Regions from separate parts of the Homo sapiens genome. Here all the other regions are linked to region 4. The links come from fine-mapping of genetic effects on gene expression. A gene starts in region 4. Each other region holds a variant in brackets. All regions are shown on one strand. Distances are from middle to middle. Region 1 has its middle 27 kb from the start of LINC02704. Region 2 overlaps TSPAN18 (tetraspanin 18). Region 3 overlaps TSPAN18 (tetraspanin 18). Region 4 holds the start of TSPAN18 (tetraspanin 18). Region 5 overlaps LINC02704 (long intergenic non-protein coding RNA 2704).

Region 1 (5,102 bases), 52 kb before region 4:
GAACAGGAATGTTTACCGAATGCTGGTACCCTCATTGTATCTTTGAAGTAAATAACTTGTTTTGATTTTATAGGCTCATAGGTGAAAGGAACTCATTTCCAGATACAACTTTGGACTTTGGACTTGGGACTTCTGATTGAGTTGATGCTGAAATGAGTTAAAACTTTGAGGGACTGTTGGGAAGCCATGATTGTATTTTGCAATATGAGAAGGACATGGGCTTTGAGGTGTCAGGGGTGGAATAATATGGTCTCAATATATATCCCTACCAAATCTCATGTTGAATTCTAATCCCCAATGTTGGGGGTGGAGCCTGGTGGAAGCTGTGTGGATCATGGGGGCAGATGCCACTTTGCTTGGTGCTATCCTTGTGATGGTGAGTTAGTTCTGTGGGATCTGATTGTTGTAAAGTGTGTCACCTCCCCTGCCCCACTCTCCCTTGCCCTCACTCAACCAAGTGAGACGCCTGCTCTCCCTGTGCGTTCCACCATGAGTAAAAGCTCCCTGAGGCCTCCCCAGAAGCTGAGCAGATGCCAGCACCATGCTTCCTGTATAGCCTACAGAACCATGAGCCAATTAAACCTATTTTCTTTGTAAATTAACCTAGTCTCAGGTATTTCTTTATAGCAATTCAATAATGAATTAATATACATAGAAAAGGTAAGATGAACCTGGAGCATCTTGTAATGCCAGAAAGAAAGTGCTTACAGAAACAAAGAGGATGGAGGCATGTCAAAAGGACACAATATGCTCAACATCATAAATCAGTAGGGAATTGCAAAATACAACAAGATACCACTACACACCTATTAGAATAGCTAAAAATCTAAAACACCGACAGTGCCAAGTGCTGTGAGGATGTGTGGCAACAGGAACTCTCATTCATTCCTGGTGGAAATGCAAAATGACATAGCCACTTTGGAAGGCAATTTGGAAGTTTCTTACAAAACTAAACACACTCTTACTATACAGTCTGGAAATTGTATTCTTTGGTATTCACTCAAATGAGTTGAAAACTTAGAGCCACACAAAAACCCACACATGTATATTTACACAGCTTTTTCATAATAGCCAAAACTTGGAAGCAACCAAGATGTTCTTCAATAGGTGAACAGATAAACTGTGATACATCTAAACAATGGAATATTATTCAGAGATAACAAGAAATGAGCTATAAAGCTGCAAAAAGACATGGAGGAACCTCAAATGCATATTGTAAACTGAAAGAAGCCAATCTGGTGAGACCCCCCCCTTTCTAAACAAAATAAAGCAAATCTCTTGGGTGGGCACAGTGGCTCACACCTGTAATCCAAGCACTTTGGGAGGCCAAGGCCAGCAGGGGCATTGCTTCAGGCCAGGAGTTCCATACCAGGCTGGGAAACATAATGAGACCCCATCTCTACACAAATAAAAAAACTATCCAGGCATGGTGGCATGTGCTTGTAGTCCCAGCTACCTGGGAGGCAGAGGTGGGAGGATTGCTTGAGCCCAGGAGTTCAAGGCTTCAGTGAGCTAGGATCACACCACTGCACTGCAGCCTAGGTGACAGAGAGAGAGACTCTCTCTCTCCGAAAAGCCAATATGAAAAGGCTTCTGTATGATCCCAACTATATGACATTCTGGAACAATGGTGACACGGTTTTCCTGTGACCCCACCCAAAATCTCATCTTGAATTTTAATCCTCATTATCCCCACGTGTCAAGGGAGAGACCAGATGGAGATAATTGAATCATGGGGGCGGTTTCCCCATGCCGTTCTCGTGATAGTGAGTGAGCTCTCAGGAAATCTGTTGGTTTTATAAGTGTTTGGTAGTTCCTCCTGCATTCACTCTCCTTCCTGCCACCTTGTGAGGAAGGTTCCTTGCTTCCCCTTCACCTTCTTCCATTATTGTAAGTTTCCTGAGGCCTCCCCAGCCATGCTGAACTGTGAGTCAATTGAACCTCTTTCCTTTACAAATTACCCAGTTTCAGGAAGTTTTTTATAGCAATGTGAGAACGGACTAATACATATGAACACAGTAAAAGGATCAGTGGTAGCCAGGGGTTCAGGGAGAAAGAGGGAAGATGTCTAGGTGGAGCACAGGATTTTTAGGGCAATGAAACTATTGTGTATGATACTATGATGGTGGACCCATGTCAGTACCTATGTGTCAAAACCCACAGAATGCACAATTCAAAGAGTGACTACTCGTGTAAACTATGGACTTTAGTGAAAAATAATATATCAATATTGGCTCATCAGTTGTCACATA[T/G]GTACCACAGTAAGGCAAGATACTAATAACAGGAGAAGGCGTGTGTGTGTGAGTGGGGGTGTGAGGGAATATATGGGAACGCTCTGCACTTGCTGCTCAATTTTTCTATAAACCCAAAACTGCTCTAAAATATCAAGTCCATTAGGTAATAGAAAGGAAAAAGGACAGAGGAACCAACCTGAAAAAAGCTCCCAGTGGCCAGGGCTAGAATAATTTGAACAACAAAATAGATCGTGATACTGTTGGATTATAATGCAAAGAATAAAATAAAGATACACAAGGTCATACTGGTACAGACAAATGATTGACTAAATAAATAAATGGGGGAGACGGGAGACTAATCTTTATAGAGAATTCCAGATAATAAATGTGGGATGTAATCATGTGAATAATATTCCAAATAAGAAGGATGGGGGCAATAGAGCATCACCATTAGGAGACAAGTGCTAATGACTGCAGGCAAGATCCACTGATGAAGTCCCCAAAGTTCCTCTCTAAAATACTTACTAATTACTGTGGTGATTTTAATCTATGTCCACAAATTATTTGATACTCCTCCCTCAAGGAGGAGGAGATGAATTCCCCTCCTCTTGAGTAAGGGCTGGATTAGTCATGCATTTCTAAGAATTAGAGTATGAAAGGAGAAAAGCAGTGACTTCACAGCAGACAAACCTGGTAGATGCCACCTTAACTAAGTGATCGCGGTTAACATCACCTGTAATAAGTCATGTCCATACTATATACCACGTGATAGGCATTTTTACCTTCGTGGTGCTCTTCCCCCAAATCTGTCTCAATGTAATCATGAGAAAACATCATGCAAATGCAAATCGAGAGATCTTCTACAAAACATCTGGCCAGGACTCTTCAGAAGTGTCGAGGTCATGAAAGACAAGGAAAGACAGAAAAACTGTCAGAGATTGGAGACCAAGGAGACGCTGATTACTAAAGGATGAAATCCTTGGGTAGAAATAGGAGATGAGTGGAAAAACTGGCGAAATAAAGTCTATAATTTAGTTAATAGCCTTATACCAATGTTAATATCTTAATTTGGACAAACAGGTAAGATGTTAGCATTAGGGAAGCTGAGTGAAGGGCATATGGGGAGCATTTTGCAAATTTTCTGTATATTTAAAATTATTTCAGCTGGGTGCAGTGCCTCATGCCTATAATTCCAGGAATTTGGGAGGGTGAGGCAGGTAGATTGCTTAAGGCCAGGAGTTCAAGACCAGCCTGGGCAACATGGCAAAACCCCATCTCTACAAGAAATATGAAAATTAGCCTGGCCTGGTGATGCATGCCTGTAGTCCCAGCTACTTGGGTGGCTGAGATGGGAGGATGGCTTGAGCCTGGGAGGTTGAGGCTGCAGTGAACTGTGATTGAACCTCTCCAGCCTGGATGACAGAGTGAGACCTTGCCTCAAAAAAAATTTAAAAATAGGGCCAGGCACGATGGCTCAATCCTAGCACTTTGGGAAACTGAGCGGGGAGGACTGCTTGAGGCCAGGAGTTCGAGATCAGCCTGGGCAACATAATAAGACCCCTATGTGTACAAAACAATGAACAAATTAGCAAATTAGCCAGTCATGGTAGGTGCATGCCTGTAGTCCCAGCTACTTGGGATGCTGAGATGGGAGTATGACTTGAGCCCGGAAGGTACTCAAGTGACAGAGCAAGACCCAGTCTCAAAAATAAATAAATAAATTAATTAATTAAATTAAATAAAAATTAAAAATAAAATAAAATTTTAAAATAAAAGGCTTAAAAAATAAATTAGTAAATTAAAATCAAAGAACTGCTTAATTTTAGATAAATACTTTTTTACCTCAAGTGATATGAGTTTTTACAAGGCTTTTTAAAGTTAAGAAACATAATTCTGTAAAATATTAATTATGAGATTATATTATGTTATTTATTTATTTTTATTTTATTTTATTTTATTTTATTTTATTTTATTTTATTTTATTTTTTGAGACAGAGTCTAGTCTTGCTCTGTTGCCCAGGCTGGAGTGCAGTGGCAGATCTTGGCTCTGCAACCTCCACCTCCCAGGTCCAACAGATTCTCCTGCCTCAGCCTTCCGAGTAGCTGGGACTACAGGTGCTTGCCACCACACCTGGCTAATTATTTTGTGTTTTTAGTAGAGACAGGGTTTCACCATGTTGCCAGTCTGGCCTCGAACTCCTGACCTCAGATGATCCGCCCACCTTGGCCTCCCAAAGTGCTGGGATTACAGGCATGAGCCACCATGCCCAGCCAATTATGTTATTTTTTTAAATGGCATTTTTCCAACTTTATCCCTTACTGGTTGACTCTTGCTGTGAAAAATGAGGAAATTAGCAGATTCACAGTTTCTCTCTGCTTCTCTCCTAGATCTCCCAATTATTGTTAGTCACTTAATGATATTAGTTTTATTGTTGATGTTTATATAACCTTTGCACTGTGTACTATACTCCAAATTCACAAAGATTTTTATTTCTATATTTAAATTGATTCAGAGCTTGTCACCAATATGTTTACCCTGGCTTCTCCATTCTGAGCTATTTATTTTAATAAATCCCTTTGTTGGCTACATTTCATTGCCTAATTTTTTGTTTCAAGAAGGACTAAGAGGCACTCATTCCCTAAATTCTAGAACTCTTGAGAATGTCTGTCTATGGCCTTTCAATTTGAAGGAAATTGTCTGGGTATAAATTTCTCGGGTCATACTTTCTATCCTCTGGGAGCTTGTAGACTCTGCCCCACAGACTCTGGCATGTTCCTAGAGAGAAGCCTGCAGCCAGCCTGATTTCCCCCACTCACGTGACTTGAGATTTTTTACCTGGACTCCCATATGATTCTTTAGCCTTGTAT
Region 2 (5,102 bases), 140 kb after region 4:
GGGATTTCTGCTACTTTTGTTGTTGCTGTTGTTGTTGCTAAGGGTAACCATCAGCAGGGCACCTGTCATTCTCTTTCATGCATCAGTGTCTGTCTCTCCCATCACACCAAAGGTCCGTGGGCAGGATAGTAAGGGGTGCAGATAGTGTGAGTGGATCTGAGCCAAGGTTGCTGGGGTCTCACTAGATTAGCCAAGAAGATAACCCTCGGAGGGGCCAGACAGCTGAGAAGGCTGAGGTGCAGGCTAGCCCACCAGGTTGCTGGCCCATGCCCCTCAAGCTCAACTGGGGAAGGGTGGAACTGTTGCCCAGGTAAGCAAGAACCAGTGGTGGGTCAGAAGTAAAGGTTGGCTGCAGTGGGTGGTGAGAGGGCAAAGGCTGAACTGAGGTCAGATGCTGCATCATTTGGGAGCCAACACTCAAACTGGATTAAGCAAGACAGGCCATTTATTAGCTTTTTAAAATTGGTTTCTAATATATTGGTTTCTAATAATATATATTCCAAATATATATATTCCAAATAATATATTTGGGGCCTATTTATTGGTTTCAAGGCAGGCAGGGCTGAATCCAGGGCTCAAATGATGCTGTTAGGACCGTATCTCACCACATCCGTGTCCTCTGCCTCCCTCCTTGTGAGCTTCAGTCCTCGGTAGCCACTCTCCATGTGGCCGCAGGGCAGGCACCTGCAGATCCAGACTGACGCCTTGCTCATTTCAAATCCAATGGAAGGAGAGCTTCTTTTTCCCAGGCGGTCCAACAAAAATCCCAAAGTCAAGGCTTATTGGATGGTCTTGGGTCACATGACACCTCTGCCCAATCACTGAAACCTGGAGGATAAGATATGCTGATTGGCCAGACTGGGTCAGTTGGTCGGGGGGCAGTCGGTGCGGGGGTTGGTGGGGTGCGGGTGGTGCTGAGGGAGGTGGTCGGGGCTGTGGGGACTGGTCGGTGCTGGGGTGGGGGCGGTCGGTGCTGGGCGGGGGGTCGGTGGTTGGGGGTGGTGTGGTGAGGTCGGTAGGTGTCGTGGGTTGGGGAAGTCAGCCTGAATGCATGAGAGGGGATGGACTTGCAAGGGAAAATCCAAGCATTATTTTTAGAAAAAGGAGAAAGGAATGCTGGGCAGACAAAGCAGCAGATTCTCCCTACTGGTGTCATGTTGGGAGTCGGGGGCGATGAAGCACCCAGGTGGTCGCATGTGTCCCAGTTGGGATTCTTCCTGTGATTTATGGTACCAGGGTTGGCCTCTCTCTAAGTGCCTCATTTTTAGTGAATCTAGTATCTGAAAGCCCAAATTTCACACACACACACACACACACACACACACACACACACACACAGCCCCCATGCCTCTGATGGATCTGAGAGTGGTACTTCACGTTCCAAAAAGATTGTTCCAGAAGGTCTTTCTCATAAAGAGTCCCTGCACTCTCTGATGGCCGCCCCACTATTTCAGCCACCCCAGCGCCTGGCTGCCTTGAGTAGACCTCCACTCGCCGGGAAGGCCTGTTCCTTTTTCCCCCCACCTCCACTCCTTCATGGCTGAGGGGAGTTTCTTGAGCCTCTTTAGGGTTTTTTGCGCTAAATGGGCCCCTTCCCAGAAGACCAACCGCAGCCTTGCTTATCTGAAGCCCCTTAGAGGGACAGGGGAGCAGAGGGGGACGGGCACTGGTTGAGTGGAAGCTCCGTCTCTGGGGGCACGAGGGTACACGTGGCCAGGCCAGCCTGGCAGCCCTGCTGCCCTCCGCCGCGGCAGCTCTGTCCTACATTTAGGGTGCGATGTGTGATTTCATTTGAGCAAATATTCCTCTGCAGAAAAAATACCGAAAACCACAGCTTGTGATGCTGCCTCCCAGGCAGCTGCCCCTTGCTTGGTTTTGGTCAACCACAAACCTCCTGGCCCTCCCCCAGTCTCTCTCGCTCTGTGTCTCGCCTGTGGGCTCCAAAGCTCTGACTCACCATGCAGCCAGCTCAGCGCTCAGCACCACCCTGCCTTATATGGTGAGCTCAGCACCTCTGGGTCAATGAGTGTTAATTCATTTATTCAGCCAATGGCTGTTGAGTGCCTATCATGTGCCAGGAGCTGTTTAAATGCTGGGGATTGAGGGTGAGCAAAGCCCAAAGGTCCCTGTCCTCAGGGTTCCCTGACCTCTCCTCTGGGAGATCTCCTGAGGGCAGGACCCTCCTCTGGGTGTCTTGCCCCCAACCCCTCGCCTGATGTCTCAGACAGTGCTAAACCATAACTGGGCTGGCTTGGTAGATATGTCGGTCAGTTACTTTCCACAGCATTTTGT[A/G]AAGCCCCCACCTGTGCCTGATGCAGCAGAAATAGCAGAATGACTTGGTTCTCAGCCTTTAGGACTTAGGGTGTAAGGTGCCACTTGTCATGGCCCTGGGGAGGAGGAAGGGCAGCTGTTAGAGAGATCTGTATGCAGACCTGCTCCTGGAGTGTGCACCTGTTAATAAAACGAATCATACAAGCTCCACTTCCCAGGCATTCGTCATTCATTCAGATGCACTCAACAGGCACCTCAGAGGCCAGATTTTTAAGGGAGACGATCAAAGTCAAGACATCCAAGGTAAAGAATGGGAGGGTCCAGAGCTGAAATATAAAGGAAGGCTTGGGGGTTCAGAGGCCAGAAGGAGATGTTACTGCTGCACAGTGGTGGTGTAAAATCAGGGGATGCAAGGCCTGTGAGCTGTGCCTAGATATAGGCCAGTTTCGGACGTTAGAAAGGACATTCGGGAGGAAGACACAGTGAGAGCAAAGGCCTGGCAGTGGGACCCTGAGGCTTGAAAGACTGTGCCAGGCAGGAAGCCAGATGAACTCGGTTAGCCTTCTTTCCCGCAGGCCTCCAGGCTTGGCCGTGCTGGGCCTGGGGCCATCTTGTCTTCAAGGCTGCTTTCAACTACAGCTTGGGTACGGAGTTTAGTAGCGCCTCCCTTTTCCTTTTGTCCTCTTCTTCCCTGGGAAGGGGAGTTTTGGAGGGCCCTTTCAAAGAGATGGTGCTGCACAAAGACCAAGAGTTCTTAATCCTCTCATTCCTGAGATACTTTACAGAGCTTAGGGCTCATTTTCACTTAGAGCATTGCAAGCAGCTGCCCTAGTGGCATACCCTGGGCTGGAAGTTGGGAGACTTGGGTCCCTGCTGCACTACTGATGTCCTTAGCCTCCTGGCCTATAGTTTGTCAAGCTCCTTCCGCTTGAAACATTGTATTCCATGTCAGACCTGGGTTCGGATCTGAGCTCTGCTAGCAGTACAGCCTCAGTATTCTTATAAGTAAGTTAGAGATAGTAATAGTCACTTCTCGTAAGACTGTGTGAAGATGGAAGGAAATACTTGAATGACAGAAAGTGCTTAACAGAGCACCTGCCAGGGATCAGCATTCAGTGTAGTACTGATGCTATTTGGTGTTGTTATTATTTATATTTCAATCATATTAATATAACTCTGTGGGAGTCTTCAGTGTATAGGTGCCTGTTGGTCCATGTCCCAAAAAACTTGGTGATGGGGACCGGGCACGGTGGTTCATGCCTATAATCCCAGCATTTTGGGAGGCTGAGGCGGGCGGATCTCAAGGTCAGGAGTTCGAGAGCAGCCTGGCCAACATAGTGAAACCCCGTCTCTACTAAAAATACAAAAATTAGCCGGGTGTGGTGGCATTCGCCTGTAGTCCCAGCTACTTGGGAGGCTGAGGTGGGAGAATTGCTTGAACCTGGAAGGCAGAGGTTGCAGTGAGCCAAGACCGCACCACTGCACTCCAGCCTGGGTGACTGAGTGAGACTCCGTCTCAAAAAAAAAAAAAAAAAAAACTTGGTGATGGGGTGGGGTGTCACACCCCTCCCATCTCCGAAAAGTGTTGGGGTTGGGGCTGCCTTACCCAGAATCACATTTATTCATTCATTCACCAACACTTCATTGAGCACTTACTGTGTGCCTGGGCCTCTGAGAGGCACGTGGGGTCCTATTGGATAGGATGCTCAGGGTCCCTGCTCTCGGCAGCTCAGGTCTTCAGGCTGAGGCCTTGGGGAAAATCCCACCCCAGCTTCCCATGGCACCCGAAGCTTTGTTCAACCCTCCCTTGCCATCTTGGGCCTAAGGCCTGGGTGAAATGCCAGAGCATCCACTAAAATGGACTGGTCCAGTGTTGCACATGGACCTTATGGGGTGGATTGCCAAGTCCCAGTTCAGCATCAGGAAAACTAAGTGTTTCACGGGGAAGATGGGCTTGCCCTGGGTGCCAATGGCAAGGTCCTGTTTCATTTTTCACCCCCCTTTGATGCTTCTTTGGATCCTGAACTGCAAAGGGTTTTGATTATTTCTGGAGGACGCCAAGCCTGTACATGGAAGGTGCTGGGGGTCCAGTCTGCCCCTGTGTTTGCCTGGCGGTCTCCTTGTGGGTATCTCACCCTCTCTGGTCTCTGGCAGCCAGCAGAGCCTGCCATGTGGGGCATCAGCCAGAGGTTGGTGAATGGATGGATGGGTGGAAGGATCACAGTGGATTTACTGGAATCGGTGTTGTCCCAGCCTCAGCCGGGGTGGTTGGACATACCAATCTCTTGGCTTGTTTTTCTGTGACAATTTGATTTTGGCTCCCGTGGAATATAAGGAATTTTCAAGTAGTGGAATGGACTCAAAACAAATGGCTTTTGAGCTGATTAAGTTTCTCAGTTTGATTTCAGGGAGGCAGCCTGGTGTGTACCCTGATTTAAGGACAGAGCTTGCAAACGCCAGCTCTGAGGCTGGGTGACCTTGGGCGTGTTATTGAGTCTCTCTCAAATTCTCAACTCTCATCTAGAAAATGGTAGCACTAATGGCATCATAGGGCTGCGATGAGCTTTAAATTAAATAATGAGTGTTAAAACAGTTGCAGAGCTCTGGGCACGTGGTAAATGCTCAAGAAAGGATGATGATGGTGTATTTAATGAACACCCTTAAGCTATTTGTTGCATCTTCTTGCTCCCACACGGGTTTTTCCAGACTACTTTGCATTTGTAAGACAAAAAAGTTACTTTGAAAAGTTATTATTACACAAGCAATATAGGCTTCTTAAAAATTCAAATGATCTGGAAGGATTTAAATTAAAAAGCAAATTCCTCTTCCCT
Region 3 (5,102 bases), 31 kb after region 4:
AGGGAGCAGATGTGGGACAATGCCCACCGATGGCAAGAGGTTTTGGGCTGCCACAGGCTACACATGCTCTTTCCTACTCAGTTGACCAGTGCGGCTGTGTCTGTCTATGGCAGGTCCTACACAGGAGGGCACACAGAGACCCTGGCTGGCATGTGCTGTCTGCAGAAAAGCCCCAGACCAGATGGGAGGCGTGAGGGGAAATGATTCTTAACAGCAGTTGCATTGAGAATAAACAGTCTCAGGCAATCATTTATGGGGATTGGGACATTCCCTCCCTCCCTGGCCCTTCCACCCTCCTCATCCCACCAAGAGCTAATGGGCTCAGATCGGAAGGCCCATGCTTCTGGGTAGACCCTTGGGGCCCCTTGCTGGCAGTGCCCAGAGCCTGCTGCACTGTGTCAAGTACAGTAAGGAACAGCCTCCTCTTTCTGAGCAGGAATAGATCCCCATCTTTCTGAGGATGTCATGGTTTCACTTCAGCCCCACTGAGACCCTGAGGCACAATTAACCAGGCTGATTGGGACTCATTCTGGGAACAAAGGGTGCTGGGCCCAGTGACAGGACGAGCAGGTGGGAAGCGCTTCCCTCCCCCAGCCAGACAAGTGCAGGTGGAGAGCCCGGCAGACACTGCAAGGTTCTCAGCGCTCAGGTGGCTTCATTAAGGGCTGCCCTGGGGTTTGCTGAGCTGGGGACGCAGCCCCAAGACATCCTGAGCATGCCTTGGCTCTCCTCCCTCTCCCCTGCCCCCACACCAACCCCCTATGTAGCTAATTTAAAACAAAGCAAAACAAAGCCCTGGCTTTGCTTTGGAGCCATAAATTGCAGAGCTTTTATCTGTCAACAAGCAATGCATCAGGCTGGCAGTGGCCCAGCCTGGATCCTGTGGCCTGGCATCGGCTTGGGAGACGAGGTCTGAGGCTGAGCTGGCATCCAGGGTCTCCCTGAGGACGCTGCTCCTTCTTGGGGCATAAGGCCAAATTCTTATGGCCTCGGGACTCAGAAGGGTGGCTATTTCTCCTAGGAGCCAGGAAGAGATGTAGGGTGACTAGGGTTGGGAGTACAGAGCCAGGGTGGGGAGAAGGGGAGACAGAGAGAGAAATGGAGAGAGAGGGAAAGAGAGATGGAGAGAGAGATGGAGGAGGGAAGAGGGAGATGGAGAGAGAGTTTGCCAACAGAAGCTAACCAGGGAAAGGCTTATCACTGGGTTGGTCAACTCTCTCTCTTCCTTTGTTCCTTGCTGCCTCTTCCAGGAAGTCTTCCTGGCTCTCTTCCTCCTCTGAAATCCGACTGACTTGGGATTCTAGGACAACAGGAGACTCTAAACCAGTGGTCTTCAATGTTATCTGGAAAGTTAATATATAAATTATTGTGAAGTCCAATTGTTGTGAATTAAGTGTGTTGTGTGTGTGTGGAGGGGTGTAGCCCCCATCTGTTCTTTGTGAGAACAAAAAGGAGGGAGGGAGGGAGGGAGGGAAGGGTTCCCAGGAGAATAACTTGGAATCATGAATCATAGCTACTCCCTTTTTTTCCCCATTTTTTTTTAGTTGTCATAAAATACAACATAAAATTTACCATCTCGGCCATTTTTAAGTACACAGTTCAGTTATTTTAAATACATTCATAATGTTGTGCAACCGTCCATGCCATCCATCTCCATAACTCTTTTTATTTTGTAAAATGGAAAATCTATATCCATTAAGCAATAATTCTTCCCATTTTCCTCTCCTCCCAGCCCCTGGTAACCTCCATTCTATTTCTGGTCTCTGTGATTTTAACTATTCTACATGTTTCATGTAAGTGGAATCATGCAGTATTTGTCTTTTGTGACTGGCTTTCTAAAATTTAGCATAGCATTTTCAAGGTTCATCTATGTTGCAGCGTGTCAGAATTTCCTTCTTTTTTAAGGTTCACTAATACTCCATTGTGTAGATAGACCACATTTTGCTTATCCATTCATCTGTTGATGGACACTTGAGTTATTTGCATGTTTTAGCTGTTGTGAATAATCCTACTCTGAATATGAGTGTACAAATATCTCTTTGAGACCCTACTTTCTTTTCCTACTGTCTTGTTCCTGATCTTAGAAGAAAAGCTTTTGGTCTTTCACCATTGACTACGATGTTTGCTGTTTGCTGTGGGTTTTTCATATATGACTTTTACAGTTTTGAGATAATTTTCTTGTATTTTTAGTTGAATGTTTTTATTATAAAAGGATGTTGAATTTGTCAAATGCTTTTTCTTTTGGGTATATACCTAGAAGTGGAATTGCTGGATCACATGGTAATTCTATTTTTAATTTTTTGAGGAACTGTCATACCGTTTTCTACAGTGGTTGTACCATTTTACATTCCCACCAACAGTGGGAACAG[G/C]GTTCAAGTTCCTTCACATCCTAGCCAACACTTGTTATTTTTTATTTTTTATTTTTTTTTATAGTAGCCATGCCAGTGGGTGTGAAGTTGTATCTCACTGCAGTTTTATTTATTTGTTTACACTTGATCTTAGCCAGAAAGCTGAGAAATGATTATTTATTTATTTATTTATTTATTTGAGACAGGGTCTCATTCTGTTGCCCAGGTTGGAGTGCAGTGGTGTGATCTTGGCTCACTGCAGCCTCTTTCTCTCATACTTAAGTGATCATCTTGCCTCAGCCACCCAAGGAACTGAGACTACAGGCATGTGCCACCATGCCCAGCTGACTTTTTGTATTTTTTGTAGAGACAGAGTTTTGCTATGTTGCCCAGGTGGGTCTTGGACTCTTGGGCTCAAGAGATCTGCCCATCTCTTCCTCCCAAAGTGCTAGGATTACAGGCAGTGTGAGCCACTGTGCCTGGCCTCATTGCAGGTTTTGATTTGCATTTCCTAATGTTTAGTGATGTTGAGCATATTTTCATATATTTATTGACCATTTGTATATCATCTTTGGAGAAATGTCTTTTAATCTTTTCTGCCCATTTTTTAATTGGGTTTTTTTGTTGTTGCTGAGTTTGAGTTTTCTATATTTTCTGGATATTAATTCTTTGTGAGATATATGATTTGCAAATATGTTCTCCCATTCCATGGGTTGCATTTTTGCTCTGTTTGTATTGTCTTTTGATGCACAAATTTAAATTTTTTTCATGAAGTCTGGTTTGTCTATTTTTCCTTTTGTTGTCTGGGCTTTTAGTGTCATATCCAAGAAATCATTACAAAATCCAATGTCAAATTGCTCTGGCTAGAACTTCTAATACTGTGTTGAATAGAAGTGGCAAATATGGGCATCCTTGTCTTGTTCTTGATCTTAGAAGAAAAGCTTTCAGTCTTTCACCATTGAATATGATGTCTGCTGTTTGCTATGGGTTTTTCATATATGACTTTTACTGTTTTGAGATAGTTTTCTTATATTTTTAGTTGAATGTTTTCATTATAAAAGGGTGTTGAATTTGTCAAATGCTTTATGCACCATTTGATATAATTGTGTGGGGGTATTTTCCTCTTCATTCTGTTGATGTGGAGTATTACCTTGATTTTTGTATGCTTAACCATCCTTGCATTCCAGAAATAAGTCCCACTTGGTCATGGTGTATAATCCTTTTAATATGCTGCCAAATTCGGGTTGCTAATATTTTGTTGGGGATTTTTGCATTAGTGCTCATAAGGGATATTGGTCTGTAGTTTTCTTTTCTTGTAAGTGTCTTTGTCTGGTTTTGGTATAAGAGTAATGCTTAGCTCAGTGCCCTTTTTACAGAAAGTAGCGGCAGATTATATTTTACAAAATTCCTGCTGCTTCTGTGTATCGAGTGTTTATGATAGGCTGGGTACTGTGGGAATCATTTGCAGTCTATTAGCTCATCCAATCCCTAGTTCAAGCCTGTGAGGTGGGACTATGGTTGTCCACACTTTGCAGGTGGATATCCTGAGGTTTGCTGGGATAGAGAATTTTCCTGATGTCACATTGGTAGCAAGAGGCAGAACTGAGATTTAAACTCAGGTTTGCGGGGGCACAAAAGCCTGGCTTCTTAACCACAGTGCTTTACATTGATTTCATGCTGGGGGCTCCTCATCTCCTACCGTGTTTCCTACCCCTGTTGAAGATAGGCAGCAGGCTATACTGGGGAATTAGTCCCTGTGCAAAGCCCATTCACAGGAACCATCCAAACAGTGCTATGCTGTTCAGTTATCCTGACCCTTTACCGATTTTATAGTTCCCCCAAAATGGCATCTTTGCAGGGCTTCCATCAGCAGCTGTCCTTCTGCTGTAAATCAGGCAGTTTGCCTATCCCATGCCTGTTCACAAGCTGGCTTATTGAACACAGTTGGCAAAGCAACTGCCCTGCATACTGGAGCTTGGCTTAGACACAGGAAAGCTTTGGTCTCCTTGTGGCACTGTTTAATTCTTCAGCACCTGGGTCAGCAAAGGCCAAGACAAGAGGCAGCTCTGACCATTCCTTCCCGAAGGCCTTACCTGTAGATCTATGGATACAACAAGTGGTACAGTGGGGTGAGCTAGGGGGTGATGGTGTTTGACGACGTGGTCTCTCCTCAGACCTACTGACTCTGGAAGACTAAAGCTAGGCTCTTCAGAGTCCTAAGAGTCTCAGTTTCTCAGGGTCTAGAGAAAATTATACAAGTAGTTGAGGGTCATTCATTCTCTCTCTCTTTCTCACCATTAACCTAGTTCTGCCTTCCCACATTCATTTAACTCATTGTTTTATAGATCCACTTGTCTTCCCTCTGTCCTTCTATTCATCCCTGTGTTCATCCATCTCTCCATCCACCCAGTCATTTTCCCATCCCTCAACCAATTATAGCCTAGTTCCTTCTTTCTACCATTCAAGTTCTTTTATAAATCCATTCACTACCCATCCATCCATTTCTCCTAGCAACTGTCTATCCATCCAGCTATTATTTGCAGAGTCAGGAACTGAGACTCAGAGGGAGTAAGATACCACCCATATCTTTGAGGAACTCATAGTCTGGTAGGTGGGAAAAATCACATGAGCAAAAAATATACTATTACCTATACACACAATTTGTGATGTGAGCCCGGAGAACAATGACTTATGCCTGTTGAGAGAGTGGGAAGGTTTCACAAAGGAGTTAACTGAAAGAAGGTTTTGAAGGAT
Region 4 (5,102 bases):
GTCGCCAGGCTGGAGTTCAGTGGCGCAATGTCGGCTCACTGCAACCTCTGCCTCTCGGGTTCAAGCAATTCTCCTGCCTCAGCCTCCCGAATAGCTAGGATTACAGGCACGTGCTGCCATGCCCAGCTAATTTTTGTATTTTTAGTAGAGACGGGGTTTCACCATGTTGGCCAGGAGGGTTTCAATCTCCTGACCTCGTGATCCACCCACCTAGGCCTCCCAAAGTGTTGGGATTACAGGTGTGAGCCACTGCACCCAGCCCACAATTACTTTTGCACCAATACATAGAATTATGTTTCCCAATTGAGAGGACATTCGAGATGTTCAAGGAAATTAAGGTCATTGGAGGTAATCCAAGGGCCTCCAATACCCTAATTGACCTGGTGAGGAGTGGGAGTGGAGGGGGTCCCTTCCCAATTCTCTTTTCATCAATGCTCTTGATGAAGAGTTTGTTGCTAATGTGTCTTTAACACCTTTCTAGCCTTTGGTAACCTTCCTTTCAAAGAGAAAGTGGGACCTCAGCTTCAACACCTCCTCAGGCAGCAGTATCTTGTTAGACTGTATTATTATTATTGTGGTTAAAGATACATTGTTAGAATTTAATAACACTTATTTTCATTGTATTTATTTTGATGGTTACCTTCTATTTATAGTAATGTGATGCTGGCTTTCCATTTATGGTAATAATTTAACATATCTTTTTAAAAACAAGCTCACTTAAGTAAATTAAAAAAGAATGAAAAAATAAGAGTTGATTTAGAGAAGCCTATTCAGCAGATGTCCTTAGCTAATGCACAGATAGGGCCAGGTCCTCCATGGAGGCTGGAGAGAGGCTGAGGTCCAGGAAACTGACTTGGAACTGGAGTCAGGGACCGAGCTGGTTGTCTAAGTTGTGCAGCGGGTCTGCACTCTCTTCCCCTGCGCCTGCCCCGTTCTGCCAAGCCCCAGACCCTTAGAGACTCTATCCCTCTCTCTGCCTGTCTCTGGTCTCCACTTCCCCAGCTCCAGCACCCTTGCTGTGGGCTTCCCGTTTTTCCTCTTTAAATGTATGTGGCGCCTGGTGTCCAAGGAGGCTCACACGGGGCCTCTCCCAGCAGCATTCCACAAGTGCAGGGCCTGTGGGGTGTTCAGCCTCCACCCTCCATTCTGTTTTGGCAGCTGAAGGGTGAATGTGGAGCCCTTCTCCTTGTCCTCCTCTTATAGAAATTCCACCATTAGGGACTTCCTCCCCTTGGGTGAAGCTTTGCTCACTCTGGGTCCCTTTGAAACCGCGGATCCAGGGATTTTTCTTCCAGCCACGTGCCTACTCTAAGAGTCCCGGTGACGCGGTGAAGTTCTTTAAAGGACCAGACATCCCTGAAGTCCTTACAGGGACATCCCCTTACAGGGACGAATCCATTTCCTGGAATGTGGGCAAGGAAAGGCAGCCACTTCCTGCCTCTCAAAACTCTGGCTGGTGGCTGGGTGCAGTGGCTACGTCTGTCATCTCAGCACTTTGGGAGACTGAGGTGGGAGGATCACTTGAGGCCAGGAATTGGAGACCAGCCTGGGCAACATGGTAAGAGTCCAGCTCTACAAAACACACACGCACACACACACACACACACACACACACACACACACACACACCAAAAACAACAGAAAACATTAGCCAGGCATGATGGCACATGCCTCTGGTCCCAGCTACTCGAGGGGGCTGAGTTGGAAGGATTGGATTGCTTGAGCCCAGGAGGTCGAGCCTACAGTAAGCCGTGCAGGAGGTCGGGCTACAGTGAGCTGTGCTTGTTGACCAGGCTTGTCCAGCCTGGTCAGCAGAGCGAGACCTTGTCTCAAAAACAAAACAAAAACAAAACAAGAAGATCCCCCTCCCCCCAAACTCTGCCCAGTGGCCTGACTACCAACATCCATATACAAGACAGGAGTAGGGTCAACTCCTTCCTATCAGTCACCCCTTAGTGAGAATCAGCTGGCCAAGGGGCCTCCTGCAGAGCTGATGTGTGCTTGAATGCCTAGGGCCCACGGGGATGGGGTGTGGAAGCTTCAAGCTGGGACTCAAAACAGAGTTGCCAAGGGAAGAGGAGTGGGCGACCCGAGCCCCTGTCATCAGTACTTTCACTTGGGCTGTCAGTTTTGATCTGCTTGCTTGTCCGTTTTGTCTGGGGCAGGGTCGGGTAGTTGTTTAGAGGAGGCTCAGAGGTTAAAAGTCTCAGGCAAGTCATGTCAGGGGTTGGGAGCCAGTGCTGCTGTGGCAGCAGTACAGAGAAGAAAAGATAAGCTCCCCAGCCCCGCAAGAACCTCAGCCCTGAGGCCGGAGACACAGATCTGGCCCCTTGCAATCAAGTCATTTGCATCTGACCTGGGGTCAGGCCCCTCCATGCAGGAAGTCCCCTTTCTTATCTGCAAGTCAGAGGAGGGTGAGTTCCCCAGGCTTTCAACAGGTACTTCCCCCGGCAGCGGGAAGCCCAGGAGCCCGATCAGGACCGAGGATCTCACCCCAACCCCTGCGTTTGGGCCCCGGGGTCAGCTGAAAGTTCCCCTGGAATAAACACTTCGGGTCCAGCATGCCCCTCTCCCCACTCCCGCAACGATCTTCCGAATTCAGACGCAGAGAGGGCCCGCGAGCAGAGCGGGAGGTGGTCGGAGGCGGAGGAAGGGGAGATGGGCAGAGGGTGGGCCCAGGGACCCCCAGACAAGGCCTGGACGCGGGGTTGGAGGAGGAGGCGGAGGCTGGCGGGAGGCGAGGGGCAGCCCGCAGAGGAGACGCGCTTCTCGGCAGCAACGGCGTCTGGAGCCGGGAGGGGCGGAGGTTTGGGGAGGGGGAGGGAGGGCGGGGGAGGGGAGGGACGGACGGCGGCGGAGGTGGGGCCGGCGGGCTGGCGGGCGTGCAGCTGCCGCCGGCGTCGCGGGGCTCCAGGCTGCGGGGCGGACGTAGCGCCGAGCGATCCACCGCGGAGCCGCGCGAGGCCGCCCGAGCCCCAGCCCCGGCCCCGGCCCCAGCCCCGGCCCCGGCCCCGGCCCCGGCCCCGGCCCCGGTCCCGGCCCCGAGCCCCGAGCGAGCGCCGCCGCCTCGCGCTGCGGGTCCCCGGACGCGCCGCCACCGCCGGGAAGGCAGCCGGCGCCGGGCAAGTTGCGAGCGCGCCCCTCCGACCAGGAAAGTTTCCCCCCGGCCGCCGGCGGGATTTGGCGCGGGGTCCGGCAGCCGCCGCTGGAAGGTATGGGGCTCCGCACCTCCGTGCCCTCCGCACGCCGCCGCCGCGCCCCCGGGGACCTGGGGACCCCCCCGCGCGCCGCCCCGGGGGTGCTGCTGGACGCGGCGGGGAATTGGGGTGGAGTAGGGATCCCAGGACGGAAGCCCGGCAACCAAGTTCCACTCAAACTAGCACGCGGGGGCTGGGGGGCCGGGGACGGTCTCCACCCCGTGCCTGCCCGGAGTCCGCTGAGGGCCGGGGGCTGCGCCCAGGACAGGTGCAGAGCCGGTGGGCTCCCAGTGCTCCGGGTGGAGGAGTGGGGGCTTCTGGAGAACGGCGCGGGGTGGCAGGTGTGGTTACAAGGTTCGGGGTTTCGGCCAGGGCTGCGCCCGGAAAGGGGCTGCTCGCCACGCCACCCGGTAAGACAGTGAGGGACCAGGGACTGGGAGCGGCGATCGGGGCCGGGAGGGCTGTGGGGCCCGGCAGCTGCATGGAGGGCGGGCTGCCTTTGGGGTCCCTGGCAGCGGGGCGGGGCGGGGCGGAGGCGCCACTCGTTCCTCCAGGACCCCCCTTATTCCTTAGGTGTGTGCGGTTTGGGGAAGTGGAGACTCCATGGAGTGCTGGGTGGGTGGGAGGCTCGGGCACGTCCAGATTTAGGGGGCAGTGGGAGCCAGTTGGGACGGTGCTCGGCTCGGGTGGGATCGCGCCGGCTCCGGGTCCTGCTGGAGTGAGGTGACTGGGCTCCCGCCAGGGGGCGCACTGCCCCGGCCCTCGCCAGCAGGAAGCGCGTTCTGGCTCCTGCGAGGCAACCGCGCCGACATCCAGGACGCAGGGACCACAGACACCCAACTTACGCGGGGTCCCGCCCCGAGGAGCCCGCCCTACACTAGCCAGACGGGGGAGCGGGACCAAGAGTGAGGCGAAAGGTTCACAGTTATAACTGCGCCGTGGGCTGGAAAGGCTAGGAGTCAGGATGTGATTTTTCTCGGGAAGGCTGCCAGGGCAAATGGATGAGTAAGAAATTTACCCCCAGAAAAAGATGTAAGAAACTACAACTGCGAATTGGTGCAGAGAGAGTGGGTTGGGGAATTAACTTTTTGACGGTTTTTGGAGTTGCAGAAACCCAAACCCCAAAATGCATGCACCCTTTTTGTAAAAGTTGCACCTTTGTTTCCTGGATCTGGTCGAATCCCTGTCTGGTGAAGGCAGGATGGGGGTCTTGGGGTATCCTCTCTCTGGGCACAAGTAAACTGGGAGGCACAGGGCGGGCGGTGGGGGATGGGGCCTTAAAGACTTCAGCAGTCCAGGCAGAAGTGTTAAATTTCTCAGCAGTCAACGAGCCCTGGCCCCCACCCTCATCCCCTGGGTCTGTGGTCTCTAGGCCACATTCTTCTGGTCATTTCACAATTATTGGTGGAAATCTGCCCTGGGTCCCAGTTGTCTGGCCTCAGGGTCCCTGTATGTTGAGTCTGTGTGTCTGTGCCTTGGGAAGTCGACGGCTGCTGGCATCTGTGAGGACTGTCATCTTTGTCATGTGCGGGGCTAACATTGAAGGGACATTGGAGGGACTATTGCCTCATCTTTCTCTCCAGTTCCCTCCCTCCTCCCATCACCCCAAGTGAGTGCAAAGGAGCAAATCATAGATTGTGCCGTGGCCTCATTGTGGTTGGTAGAAGTTTTCATCTTTCTCTTAGCTGGTAACCTGTGCTCCTTGGGCAGCCCCCCTCCTGCTCCCATGTCCTTAATGTCCCTTACAAAGGTGGGGGAAATGGGGGTCCCTGAAAGAGATGAGGTTCCTCTGTTCAATGTAGTCTGCCACATGTTTTTGTTGGATGCTACTGAAATGCTCCAGGACAAAGTTGCCATAAAGACAGATCAGCATGATTTTTATTTTGAATAGAAGAGGAGGAGGAG
Region 5 (5,102 bases), 29 kb before region 4:
CAAGACCTGGTCATCCAACACAAGAATCAGAACATTAACCAGCACTTGCATCTGTCTGTGGGCTTCTTCCCTGTCTGACCATCAGCCTCCCCTACCCAAGGAAGCCACTATCCTGAAGCTTTCTGTAGGTCACATGATCATCCCTAAACAAATCACTGTGGCCTGGGGGACAGAACAGGCTGATTGGCCAGGTCTGGATCAGGTGATCATACTTGGAGTCAGGGCCTGGGGTAGAATTAGCCCCATGCAATGCACGTGGGTGGAGGGGAGTGAGGGTTGGGTGGTTTCCCAAAGGCAATCTGAAGGGCCAGGGAAAACAAGAGCCATCAACCGCACTTTGTCCCAGGCTCAGTGTCACTTGAACCAAGTCTTCCCACAGCACCACAGGGCTCAGGCTTGCCCTGCTGACCCCCAAGGCCTGGACCTGAAGCTCCTGGAAGAACAAGAGTTGATGAGAAAGGACATTCTCACTTCCTCCCACGGTCTGGAGCCACAGGCTGGAATCTCCAGCCCCACCTCAGCTGAAGGAGTGGGGAAAGGAGGCTGTCTCTGGGGGACTCGTAGAGGGCAGGGCAGCAGGCTGGGGTGGACAGGGTCCTGCTGTTTGACTCCTCCTGCTCCTCCTCCTCATTATTATCATGTCCTCAGGGCATGACCCAGGTCATCTCATTTAGTCTTCCCATGGTTTTATGTGGAGGGTCATTATTATCCCCCTCTCAGAGCTGAAGCTTCCAAGGCTGGCTAGTGAGAGACTGGCATGTGTTTACCCAGCAAAGCGGGGTCAAGCAGAGCCGTAGAGTCCTAGAGCCAGGTGGCCCTGTGGGACTGGCTTAACCCTTACGTTGGGGAACCCAGAGCCCAGACAGGTTAGATTCCCTGTCCCAGGGCCTACAGTGAGTGATGGCTCATAGCCTGACTCCTAATTCAGGGCCTGCTCCATGAAGCCAGATGAACCCAGGTGTGAGACCCGGCTTCTCCCCTTCTGATTACTTAAAGTCTGTGTCCCTCGGTGACCTCGTCCGCAAAAGAGGATGGCAATGGGCCCCACGTGGGAGCTTACCGTGAGGTTAATCACGTTCTCACCTGCAAGGTGCTCAGCATAGTGACTGGCACATGGCGAAGGCTCACGAGTGAGGGCCCTTTTCAAGATCATCATTTAGCCCCATGTTTCTCCACCTGCAACACGGGAAGAAGAGAGGCTCAAGTCATCTAAGGGGTGCGGCCATGCTTCAGAAAAATGTAATATTGAAATAGTCCCAGAGAGGTAGTACAATGTGGTGATTAAGAACGCAGACCCTGGGACCGGCCGAGGTTCCAGTCCCCACTCTGCCATGTATAAGCTGAGCTTTCTTGAGCAAATTCCTTAACTTTTCCATGTCTCAGTTTCCTCATCTACATAATGGGGTTAATAACAGTTGCTGTCTCCTGGAGTTGTTGTGAAGATTAAACAAGTTAGCCTCTGAGTGAAGTGCTCTGAACAACACCAGGATATGGCTAAGGACTTTGTAAGTATTCACTGTTACCAAAAATGCTGGTTATTAGCTGTCACTTTGGACAACCAATCATAGTTATAGAAATAAAATAGAATGTAAATGTTGTTAATCTTCCCAATATGAAATAAAATCACATAGTCAACAAACATTCGGGACTGATTGTTAATTTCCTCACCTTTTATGGAGAGTCACTAGTAGACAGTGCCTAGAGTGGATAAATGAAGAAACAGAAATGTATTTTTTAAATTAATTGATTGATTGATTTTGAGACAAGGTCCCTCTCTGTCACCCAGGTTGGAGTGTAGTAGCATGATCATAGCTCACTGCAGCCTCAACCTCCTGGGCTCAAGCAATACTCTCATCTCAGCCTCTCGAGTAGCTGGGACTACAGGCGAGTGCTACCATGCCTGGCTAATTTTTGTATTTTTTTTTTTTAGAGACAAGGTCTTTTGATGTTGCCCAGGCAGGTTTCAAACTCCTGGGCTCAGGCAATCCTCCTGCCTCGGCCTCCCAAAATGCTGGGACTACAGGCGTGAGCCACCAAGCTCAGCCAGAAATGTATTTTCTATGATTTAGTGTGAAAAAAAAAAAAAAAAACACACAAGCTGGGCACAGTGATGCGTGCCTGAGGTCCCAGCTACCTGGGAGGCTGAGGTGGGAGGAGGACTGCTTGAGCCCAGGAATTCAAGTCCAGCCTGGACAACATGGCAAGACCCTGTCACTTAAAAATTTTTTTTAAATAAATAACAATGAAAAACAAACTTGGAGTGTTTAGGAGAACAGAGAAACTTACTTTTTATTATTTTTTAACCATATGCATAGGTTCGTTCCATGAGAAAAGTTTTTAACAAATTGAAAACAAATAAATGACGGTAAGTCATTTATAAATCAGTAACAGTTCAAAGAAAGCACTTGCTCTCTATGTTAGTAAGAAACAGGAGATGGAACAGAGAAGTCCACACGCCTACTCCAATTAGAGTTCTTTGGGCAGCAAGCATGTATTACTTATAACGAGAAAATATGTAAATGAAATAAACTTGAAGCAAATGTGATGATTTTGATTCCCAGCAGGCAGGAATATGACACCTAGAATCACACTGTCCCTTCCTCTCACTCCTGACCAGGCCTGGGCGGGAATTCCACTCCTATTATCGA[A/G]TGTTGCAAAAATCCCAGAGCCGCCTGGATCTAATCCTGGCTGGGCCTTCATATCCAGGTGGGCCTCCAAAGCAGGGATGAAGTTGCCCTGAGCAGCTTCCCAACCCAGCAAGAAGCCAACTGGCTGCTGGAGCCAAGAAAGGCTTGTGCTTAGCTCGCTTCATAGAAGGTCCTAGAACCGGGAGCAGATAGTTCCAGGCAGTCCCAAGCATTAGCTCACCTGTGAGTGGTAATAAAAGGGGCATTAGAGAGCTTCTTTCACCAACCTGTATCCATTCATTCACTCACCCATCAAATGTGTGTTAAGTCCCTAGCAATAGTGTCTAAATTCTCACCACTTCATAAATACTCTGCAACCCTGCTTCCAGATCCTCACATGCCTGACACCTTCTTTCTATGTGGATGGTGCATAACATTCCCATTAATATTCTGAAATAAACCCCATGGATGTTGTAACCTACCTACAGGCACGATTTTTAAAAATAACCATATACAATGTCCTATCTGTAACATAAATAGGAAATATAAAGAATGTCCCGTAAAATAAAAACTGTACTTGAACAAGTAAGCACTCAGGCCCAGCTGCTCTGGAAGACATAGGAAGCAGTCAGGGGCTTGCAGCCTGCGCAGGACCACCATCAAGGGGACAGCTACAGATGTACAGGAACGTGGGGCACTGAGCCGAGAAGCCAACGTTCTAATCATGTCACTGTCAGATGCACGTTTCCAAAATTGTGAGCAGTTCTTGGCATGTTCTGAATAAAACTAAATATAGAGTTCTCTTCTCTTGTTTTTGTCTTTAGTTGCATCCTTGAAAATTCAGTATATATTCAAAGTGTGGAAAAATGCTTTATATTTACATGTAAAGCAGAGCTAAAGTCTAGACTCACATAATGATAAACATATTTTCTTCCCTACATGAATGTCCAGCAGGGCGTGTGAAAGTCACGTGGCTTGTGGGGACAGTTCCTCACTGGGCTGCATGATCCCACTTTTTTTTTTTTTTTTGAGACAGTCTCACTCACCCAGACTGGAGTGCAGTGGTGCGATCTCAGCTCACTGCAACCTCCGCCTCCTGGGTTCAAGCGATGATCTGCCTCCTGGGTTCAAGCGATTCTCTGCCTCCTGAGTAGCTGGGACTACAGGTGCGTGCCAACATGCCAGGCTAATTTTTGTGTTTTTCGTAGAGACGGGGGTTTCACCATGTTGGCCAGGCTGGTCTCAAACTCCTGACCTCAGGTGATCCACCCACCTCGGCCTCCCAAAGACCATCTCCCTCTTAACTAATCACCTGCCTTCCCAGACCCACCACCTGCTCAGTTTAGTGGTACTCCCCACCTGACCTTATCTTTGTGACAATCGAAAATGCCCCCCATTCATTTCCAAATCATCCCTGGGGGCAGTGCCACTCAACTGAATGTGTCGTTTAATCATCTCAACAATCTGATATAAGAGGTACTAACATTATCCCCTTTTTACAGATGAGGTGAAATGGCTGAGCCAGGACCCTCACCGGAAGTTGTCTTAAGTCCACGCAGTCTGCTATACTTCCTTCCCGCGTGTCCATTGGGCCTGCAGTGGCACTGGGGACCCAAATATGAGAAAGGCATCCCAGCTGGGGGTTGCCAATGCATAGACCCCCCTGTCTATACAGCATGGCGCAGATTCAGACAGAGGAACATATGGCATGCTGGGATATGCAGCAGAGGAGTGAGCAGAGAGCAAGAGCACCACAGCTAAGCCTGGGGTAGAGATGGTGGAGGAGCGAGGGAATGGCATTCCAGGCGGGGGAACTGCATGAGCAAAGGCATGGAGGACAAGGCAGCATGAAAGGTTCAGGGTCTGTGAGAGGCAGGGGGTGGTGGTGGGGACATAGGTCTGGACAAGCAGGCTGTGCTGTGATTGTGAAACCAGAGAGGCACGGTCAAGCAGTGTGGTTGGGCTGGGTAGGCAATGGGGAGCCATGGGAGGTTTTTGAGCGGAGTAGCTCCATGAAGGTGTTGGTTTTAGAACAATCCCTGGGAGCAGGGAGGAGAGTGAACTGGGAGGGTGAGGCAAGGGTGTGCCTCCAGTGAGCGTGCGTCTCCACAATCCAGGCCAGGGATGTGGGTGGGAGCAAGACAGCAGAGCCCTTTCAGAGGCAGAATTAGCAGCCTCACAACAAACAGGCTGTGGGTCCAGGGTGAGGAGGAGCCTCGAATGACCTTGGAAAACAGGTAACGGCTGGAGGAGAAACAAATTCAAGCAGACCTGGGATCTGGGTGAAGACATTTTGAATCTGAACTCTTTCCCCAACACTGCATCTCCACTGCTACTTCGTCTGCCCGGAACAGTCACCCTCGGCTTTAAGTATGGCTGGGGCTCCTGCTAAATGTCCCCTCTTGAGAGAGCCTGCCTGACCTCCCTGTCTACAGTAGCTGTCACCTCCTTATTTCCCATCCAAGCTCTCTACTT

What was found. PIP is the estimated chance that this variant, and not a neighbour inherited with it, causes the effect.
Region 1: its variant is the best candidate, but not a certain one, in a credible set for the expression of TSPAN18 in whole blood (INTERVAL, PIP 0.64).
Region 2: its variant is the best candidate, but not a certain one, in a credible set for the expression of TSPAN18 in aorta (GTEx, PIP 0.55).
Region 3: its variant is the best candidate, but not a certain one, in a credible set for the expression of TSPAN18 in whole blood (TOPMed, PIP 0.87).
Region 5: its variant is the best candidate, but not a certain one, in a credible set for the expression of TSPAN18 in lung (TOPMed, PIP 0.83).

The regions. Positions count from the first base shown.
Region 1 is chr11:44,672,108-44,677,209 of GRCh38, forward strand. No RefSeq gene overlaps it. Among named protein-coding and RNA genes, the nearest start is that of LINC02704, 27 kb to the right of the region's middle. RefSeq lists enhancers at 1-187, 188-966. The variant T/G (reference allele first, on the strand shown) is at 2,253.
Region 2 is chr11:44,860,498-44,865,599 of GRCh38, forward strand. All of the region lies in intron 3 of TSPAN18 (tetraspanin 18), which reads left to right. Among named protein-coding and RNA genes, the nearest start is that of TP53I11, 88 kb to the right of the region's middle. RefSeq lists enhancers at 1,001-1,628, 1,629-2,256, 2,357-2,406. The variant A/G (reference allele first, on the strand shown) is at 2,293.
Region 3 is chr11:44,754,855-44,759,956 of GRCh38, forward strand. All of the region lies in intron 1 of TSPAN18 (tetraspanin 18), which reads left to right. Among named protein-coding and RNA genes, the nearest start is that of TSPAN18-AS1, 21 kb to the left of the region's middle. The variant G/C (reference allele first, on the strand shown) is at 2,370.
Region 4 is chr11:44,724,076-44,729,177 of GRCh38, forward strand. It overlaps TSPAN18 (tetraspanin 18), which reads left to right and starts at 2,887. Exons shown (of 10, transcript NM_130783.5): 1 at 2,887-3,212. All of the region lies in intron 2 of TSPAN18-AS1 (TSPAN18 antisense RNA 1), which reads right to left. RefSeq lists enhancers at 1,415-2,275, 2,276-3,137, 2,504-2,673, 4,389-4,891, 4,892-5,102 and silencers at 2,864-3,013, 3,850-4,019.
Region 5 is chr11:44,695,138-44,700,239 of GRCh38, forward strand. It overlaps LINC02704 (long intergenic non-protein coding RNA 2704), which reads right to left. Exons shown (of 3, transcript XR_931234.3): 2 at 1,084-1,176. Among named protein-coding and RNA genes, the nearest start is that of LINC02704, 3.7 kb to the right of the region's middle. The variant A/G (reference allele first, on the strand shown) is at 2,649.